Linked DNA regions of Homo sapiens. The protein of the gene in region 1 interacts with the protein of each later gene in a pairwise test. Each region holds a gene or a part of one and is shown on either strand. Other genes may lie near its edges.

Region 1 (3,819 bases):
CCCCTTCCCTCCCACTGAAAGAGGGGACGCATGAGATGCCCATGCTGGCTGAGGCTGCCGTCATGCACTCCGTTCAGCACCCACGGCCCCAGGGAGCATGCTCCCTTCTCATGAAGAGCACGGTGGTGGCTCATTTTCCCCTGGCTATCACAAGCCAGGACCCCAGGGAGCCCAGGCGTCCCCAGGCGCAGAGCAGCATTTAGAGGCGCCAGCTGCCTCTCAGGGGGCACCTCCGCGGTGCAGTGGTTGGGGGTGGTGCATGAGGACAGGGACTATGGTCCAAAGGGACCTCAGGCAGGTGCAGGGCCTGTGGAATCCCAGTGACCTTCTCCACGGTGAGGGTGGAGTTGTGGGTCTCGACTTGATGGCAGAGTCATGGGTGCGGGGAACAGGTGGCCACTCTCAGTCTCCACCCCTGCCCTCTTAACAGCCCGTTGAACAAAGACTGTTGAGCTCTTGGCACATGCCCAGCGCTGTGCCCAAGCACATTACACGTTGTTCCAGGGTCTTCCCAGCGCTGCAGGTGGATCATGCTGCTGTCCCATCTGACAGAGGAGGAGATGGAGGCTCAAGCAGGTTATACCAGGCCCGACCACCAATAAGAGGTCACAGGGCCCTCAGTGCCTACCCTGATTCTCCTTTGCTGCCCCTGCTCCTCTCATCCTAAATCCTCCAAACTCAAGCCCTCCCACGCATCTTTGAATGTCTCCCGTCATTTCCATGAATCTGGCATTGTCTCTATCCCCTCCCATACCCTAGACTAGGGCCCCCAGCAAGGACGCAGCCTCCTTCCTCTGCATCTCTGCATAGAGCTCGGGACAAGGCTGAGTACACACCAAGTGCACAGGGGCAGAGGCAGGGGCAGAGTGGAGCAGGCCCTGAGATAGTTCTAGAAAATGGGCCCCTCGGTTACCTTTGGAGGAAGGGAAGAACCCGGCCAGGACCCTTCTGTGTCTCAACACACGTGCCAGCAGGTATGCGCGCGCGTACACACACACACACACACTGCTGCCACTCCTACCCTGCAGGGAGGGGAGCCCCAGCTGGGATTGGCCCACCCATGGCCTGTCCTGGCTGCCAGCCCAAGCCCCTCTGCCTCCCTTTCCACCCTTTCCACTCCCGGCTCAGGCTCAAAGCTGCAAAGGGCCACTGGAGCAGTTCCCTCACAGCCCTCTCAGCTGCGAGTGGAGATCCCCAAGCCCAGCGTGCTGACCTCATCCCTCACCCAGCTGCCTGTGGCTCTTTGCTCTGTCCCAGGCTCTGCCCTGGAGGGGTGAGGCGGAGCAGGCAGGGCTGTAGCGAGGTGGATAGGAGTCAGTGGACTTTGAACTCAGAGCCTGGTTGGCACCCTGGGTCTCCCCTTGCTGATGTGTGACGACCTGGGGGGTGTGACTCCTTTGGACCCTGATTTCCTCATCTGTAAGGTGGGAGTCATAGCTGGCCTTAGCCTGGGGTCATGGCTGGGGTTAAAAGAGACTGTGTGAGGCCGGGTGTGGTGGCTCATGCCTATAATCCCAGCATTTTGGGAGGCCGAGGCTGGCGGGTCACTTGAGGTCAGGAGTTTGAGACCAGCCTGGCCAACATGGAGAAACCCCATCTCTACTAAAAATACAGGTGGCACACGCCTGTAGTCCCAGGTACGCTGGAGGCTGTGGCAGGAGAATCACTGAACCCAGGAGGTGGAGGTTGCAGTGAGCCGAGATCACACCACTGCACTCCAGCCTGGGCAACGAGCAAGACTCCGTCTCAAAAATAAATAAATAAATAAAAGAGACTGTATGTGTGGGTGCTTGCAACAGGTCCTGACACAAAATGAGCCCTGACAGATGCTGCCCGTTCTTCTGTTGCACCTCTCTGGCAGAGGCAGCATGGGGGGTGTTGAAGTGAGGGGCAGGCCCCCAGGGTCTGGGCTCGTGGTAGCCTGGGCATCACCTGTGTGTGCTCTGCTCCCCTGGGGCTGTACTGGCCTTGCAGAGGCAATTGCTCGTTGTCAGGAAGGTGTCCCCTTTGGGCATCCAAGGGCAGATGATGGCGAGCCTGACCCGACATGGGAAAGCTGAAGAGGACAGGAATGGGCTCTGGCTCCGAGACCTACCTCCAGTGGGACCTGGGCCCTGGACTCCGGCCTCTGGCCCCTCCCATCTCTTGCCCACATCCTGAGGCGACGAGGGCTAGATTCAGAGCCCAGAAGGGCTTTGTTAACTCTGATCGACAAAGGGGTTAACTTTGTTAACCTTCCTGAGGGTTGACCTCATCAGGGCCCGGGGTTCCCAGGTGACCGTGGGCCTCCCTCTGGGGACCTTGCAGATGGTGGTTCTCATGGACCCAATGGAGGATCCCGACGACATCCTGCGGGCGCATCGCTCCCGGGAGAAGTCCTACCTGTTCGACGTGGCCTTTGACTTCACCGCCACCCAGGTGAGGGAGGGCCTGGGCTGGAGACACGCAGGAGCCCCTCCCCCACCCTTAGCCCCACTCAGGAGGGGCCCTCCAGGGCCCCTGCCTTTGAACCTCAGCCTCCACTCCACCTGCTCACCCTCTGTTCCTTGAGCCTTCCCCATTCAGGAAGGTTCTCATGCACACAAGGCACACACACCCGGCCTCCTGCAAGGATGCACTGGGGTTGGCACTCAGACACCACCCTACACGGTACAACTCGCTTGGCTCCTACTGAGCTGGAAAAGGAGCTTGAAGGCCATCTGGTGTGGGGAGGACAGGGGCAGAGGGTGGGTTCAGCGAAGCTGACACCCTCCTCGAGGACCCCCATCTCGCCCATCTGTGGGATGCTCCCAGGAACAGATGTGATGCATCCTCAGGGCGGGGGGCCAGGAGCCAGCTGCGCAGGAAGGCGTCTCAGGTGTCCTGGGCTCTCTTTCAGCCTGACGTCCCCCACTGTGAGTGTAAGCAGAGACATCCCCTCCCCCACCCCCCACCCCCACTTATCTTGGGGCTGGGGCTCCAGGGACAGAAACCTCTCCTATCAGAGGTCAGGAAGAGCCAGTGGGTGCCTGTGCTGTGCCCCGCCTGTGTCCCGGCCCCTGACAGGCTTCCTTCCTCGCAGGAGATGGTGTATCAGGCCACCACCAAGAGCCTCATCGAGGGCGTCATCTCAGGCTACAATGCCACTGTCTTTGCCTATGGCCCCACAGGTAAGGGGAATGCCCAGACTGTGGGCGAGGACCGCAATGCCCCTGTAATCCCCGTCACCCTCCAACTAGTCTGACCCCAGCTGGAGCAGGAATCCAGGATGTGGTCGCTCCACATCTCACCCAGGGCCCTCCAGCCCCAGAGGCCCCAACCCGAGCCGGGGCATCATCCTCCCCACTCCCCACCACCTCCCTGGCCCTCTGAGAGGGCCCAGCCTTGAGGACAAACCCCGGTTTCCAGGAGTGCCTGCCCAGCAAGGCCTCCCTCCCAGCCCCACCCCGGTCACCCTCCACCTTGTTCTGCCCCAGGCTGTGGGAAAACCTACACCATGCTGGGCACAGACCAGGAGCCTGGCATCTATGTTCAGACCCTCAACGACCTCTTCCGTGCCATCGAGGAGACCAGCAATGACATGGAGTATGAGGTCTCCATGTCCTACCTGGAGGTGAGTCCCCCAGCCTAGGCTCAGATGGGGCTGGCCTCCCTCCCTGGGGCTGGTCACTGTGCAGCTTCCCGGGGCGCTCATCACTGCTGCCCTCCTGCATGCCTACTGTGAGCTCCACTTTACAAACATCGCAGGCTCATCAGAGAGGTTAGGCAACTAGGCCAATGTCACACAGTAAGCGAGGGAGCGGGGATTCAAACTCAGGACCCTGCAGCTTCAAGGCCAAG
Region 2 (3,819 bases), on another chromosome or scaffold:
CTTTCCGGGGGTGAGGGAGGATGGGCTGAGAACAGTTAACTCTGTTTAACTTTCAATTGAATTTGTCATAAAAGTATGTTTTTTACTAACGTTGAATTTTAACTGCTGTTTATTTTATATACGGTACAGGAAAATAACCTGTATGCATTGCATGCCTGGGTTTTTTGTTGGTTTGGGTATTTTTTTGTTTGTTTTTGCTTTCTTTTGAATTAGTACAAAAACCTGAGGAGTTTTACTAGAAACCCCGTATCTTGATGAGGCAGACTTATTTTATCTGAAACCTGCTTAACCTTTGGGCAGCTTTTTAGTTTGGGAAGTCAGGTTACACTATTTGTCCGGAAAATAATTAGCATCAGTCCATAAATCTGGGACATAAAATGTTTCCCTTTGGAGGATGTAAAAGACTATTTTTAAAGGCATTCCAAGTGGGCTGTTCCTATAGTTTACAGAGGTACTCAGTTCATGAACTTATTGCAGCAGGACAAATCATAAATACTTCTTATGTCCAAAAAGAACATAATTTTCAAATATACATTTATCTCAGAAATTCTAATGCTTCTGTCTTTATCTTCCAGAAAAGAAAGACATAGTTCAGTTCAAATTATTGTTTAAAAGTTTCTGTTTTGTTTTTTACTTTTTTCACTACATTTGAGCATATGAGTTATCCTGGGGTTCAGTGTCTAATATGATAGTGTTTTAAATGTTTTAAGCATTTTAATGCTTACAGAATTTTTTCCTGGTTTTTAAAATTTCCACTTTACAAAAAGAAGTGCCTTTAATTCATTGCTTTTCTCCTCCATTTCAGAATTGGGTAGGCTAACATTTTACTGCATAAATGAATAACTGCCATTTTTCTCTTACTGCTATACATTTGTTTCATCTCTGATTAGACTTGCATCTCAACTAAATCATATTTAATTTGCATGCAGTACTCTACCAGTTACTATTAGTGCTTATAAGATGCTGGGCCCTGCTTGACAAGGTGATTGAGCTCTGAAATAATAAGTGATTGAACTCTGAAATAATAAGTGACTTGCCTGATCCAACACGGGAGAACCAGGATTCAGACCCTGGGATGTCTTGCTTCAAACAGCCATCTTTCAGCCATTTTATATACTCTTTCAGCTATACCACGGATACTGTTTGAACTTATAGATCATGAGGCATCAATTGAAACTTAAGTTATAGCCAGGTTTGGTGGCTCATGTCTGTAATCCCAACACTTTGGGAGGCCGAGGCAGGTGGATCACCTGAGGTCAGGAGTTCAAGACCAGCCTGGCCAAAGTGGCAAAACCCCATCTCTACTAAAAATACAAAACTTAGCCAGGTGTGGTGGCCTGCGCCTGTAGTCCCAGCTACTCGGGAGGCTGAGGCAGGAGAATCGTTTGAACCTGTGGGTGGAGGTTGCAGTGAACTGAGATCATGCCACTGCCCTGCAGTCTGGGCAACAGAACGAGACTCCGTCTCAAAAAAAAAAAAAAAAAAAAAACTTATAAATAAACCAATAACACCCAATGGATGGCCAGATGCCATATCTTCCCGTGTTACTTTTTTTTTTTTTTTTCCCTGAGACAGAGCCTCACCCCGTCACCCAGGCTGGAGTGCAGTGGCACCATCTCGGCTCACTGCAACTCTGTCTTCCGGGTTCAAGCTATTCTCCTGCCTCAGTCTCCCGAGTAGCTGGGACTACAGGCGCGTACCACCATGCCCAGCTAATTTTTGTATTTTTAGTAGGGACAGGGTTTCGCCATCTTGGCCAGGCTGGTCTCGAACTCCTGACCTCAGGTGATCCATCCGTTTCAGCCTCCTAAAGTGCTGGGGTTACAGGCATGAGCCACCGTGCCCAGCCTCCCCTGTTACTTTTTAAATCACTTATAAAATGAAACAAAGATTCAGAGAAGCTCTTAAATGGTGAACATCCTGTCTTTTTTATATCAGCATAAGGTGTTGTTTTCTTGCTCAAGTATTTCTAACGTAGGTATTTTCAAGCCTTGTGTTATAAGCTGTTGATTTGTGATCATGGATTTTAGGAATTATGGACAAGACAATAAAAAACTACAACTGTAAAGATCAAGTCCAGTGCTCCCAGATAGGAAGAAGTGGCAGAAAAATTGACCTAGCACAACTCATTTGAAAGACAATGTTGTGCCTGAGTTGTCATAATCTTGGGAAAATATGAATTCAAACCGTATATTGTTAAATATTATACAGATCAGTGGTTGAATAAAATATCTCTCAGTATAAGGACAGAAGGTCCACTTTTATATTTTACTGCTCTTATTTTTAAAATTTCATTTTATTAGACTACGAGCTAGTATAGTTTTTGTGTTACTTTCATTGAATTCCCCTGCGATAGCTAAAATTATTGCTCATAGTGATAGTTAATCTTTTATCATAGAACCAAGAACGCTTGTTTGTACAAACGTTAGAAGTCCTAAAGATTAACACTACAATAAGAGTGTAAAGTCTAATTCTGCCTTTTAAAGTTATCAGAAGTTCTTATAAATGCATTAGTTTAGAAAAATCTTTGTGTTTATTAACTTGCAAAAGGTTATAAAAATATCTTGGTATTTGAAGTCAGGTTTCCATTTGTAATACATGCAGTTCCCAATTTATGAATTCATCCTTTGAAGTTTGTTAGAGGGCAACATGTGTTTTTTTCCTACATTTTTTCATAGAAATTGAATTATGCTTTAAATAATGCAATAATGTATTAGATAGTAGTTCACAGATTTGTTCATTTTTTAAAAATCTACAAACCCCACTATACAACTTATTTCTGATAGTAAAAGTGTTTGGGGCTATAAAATATTTTATTTTGTAATTAGAAATTAACAAACATGAGCCAGGCATGGTGGAATGTGCCTGTAATCCTAGCTACTTAAGAGGCTGAAGGCAGAGGATCACTTGAACCCAGGAGTTTGAGGCCAGCCCAGGCAACATTGCCAGACTCCATCTCTATTAAAATAAATAAATAAAAATAAATTTAAAGTTAATAAACATTTGGAAGAATGAAATAATATTAAAATGTCTATCAATTATTTAAGACATAAATATGAAGACATTTCACATATTTTATGTTAACATATGTTGGGTTTTCTGCTAACTTGTATTGCTAAGGATATGTTGGGTACCAGCATTTTAAATATACACTTAAAGTTTTCAGCTGCTGGATACCTATTTTTCTATAGAATACATGGAATCTATTAAACAGGTAAATCTTTGTTACCTGTTTTTGTATTTTGTTTGTTAGCTCACTTTAATTCTATGGTACTTTGCCTTTTAAGATTCCTTAACTATTTAGCTGATAATTTAAGTATCTACCATGGTACTTTGCATATAATAGATGTTTGATATTTATGGACTCAAAGATTTTAAAGCTAAAATTCACTTCTGCATAATTCTTTCAATATCATGTATTGAATGACGTATTAAATTTTATGGTAGTCTGAAATAAGCATTTTGACATTTTCTGTGTGCCTAGCAAAGCACAGTTTGAAGAGTATGATTTTACATCTTAAGCTACTATTATGCACATGGAGATGAGAGCTAGAATCATATGCCTGTACAGTATTTATCAAATATGCATATATATTTCTACATAATACTTTCTTTTAAGCTTTATTCAGAATTAGGGTTATGTTCTCTATTATAGTAAGATTTCTTAATTATTTTTCATGGTTTCATGCAGCATTAGATTATTTAAAAGATTACAAATTTATAAAACAGGGAGATAGAAAGACTGTTAATTATTAGAAAGTCTAATTAAAGCAGTAGAACTTTACTCATTACTGCTTGTCCTGCCACATAATTTTCTTG

The links.
Region 2: the proteins of KIF19 (region 1) and HTR2B interact in a two-hybrid assay, tested with the Homo sapiens proteins (one large-scale study listed by BioGRID and IntAct).

What each region holds. Positions count from the first base shown.
Region 1 is NC_000017.11:74,339,569-74,343,387, forward strand, and holds part of KIF19 (kinesin-like protein KIF19), read left to right. Parts: exon of another isoform or gene 1-576; intron 577-759; exon of another isoform or gene 760-974; intron 975-1,614; exon of another isoform or gene 1,615-1,774; intron 1,775-2,307; coding exon 2,308-2,418; intron 2,419-3,061; coding exon 3,062-3,149; intron 3,150-3,455; coding exon 3,456-3,592; intron 3,593-3,819. UniProt on the Homo sapiens protein: Plus end-directed microtubule-dependent motor protein that regulates the length of motile cilia by mediating depolymerization of microtubules at ciliary tips.
Region 2 is NC_000002.12:231,118,403-231,122,221, forward strand, and holds part of HTR2B (5-hydroxytryptamine receptor 2B), read right to left. Parts: intron 1-3,819. UniProt on the Homo sapiens protein: G-protein coupled receptor for 5-hydroxytryptamine (serotonin). Also functions as a receptor for various ergot alkaloid derivatives and psychoactive substances.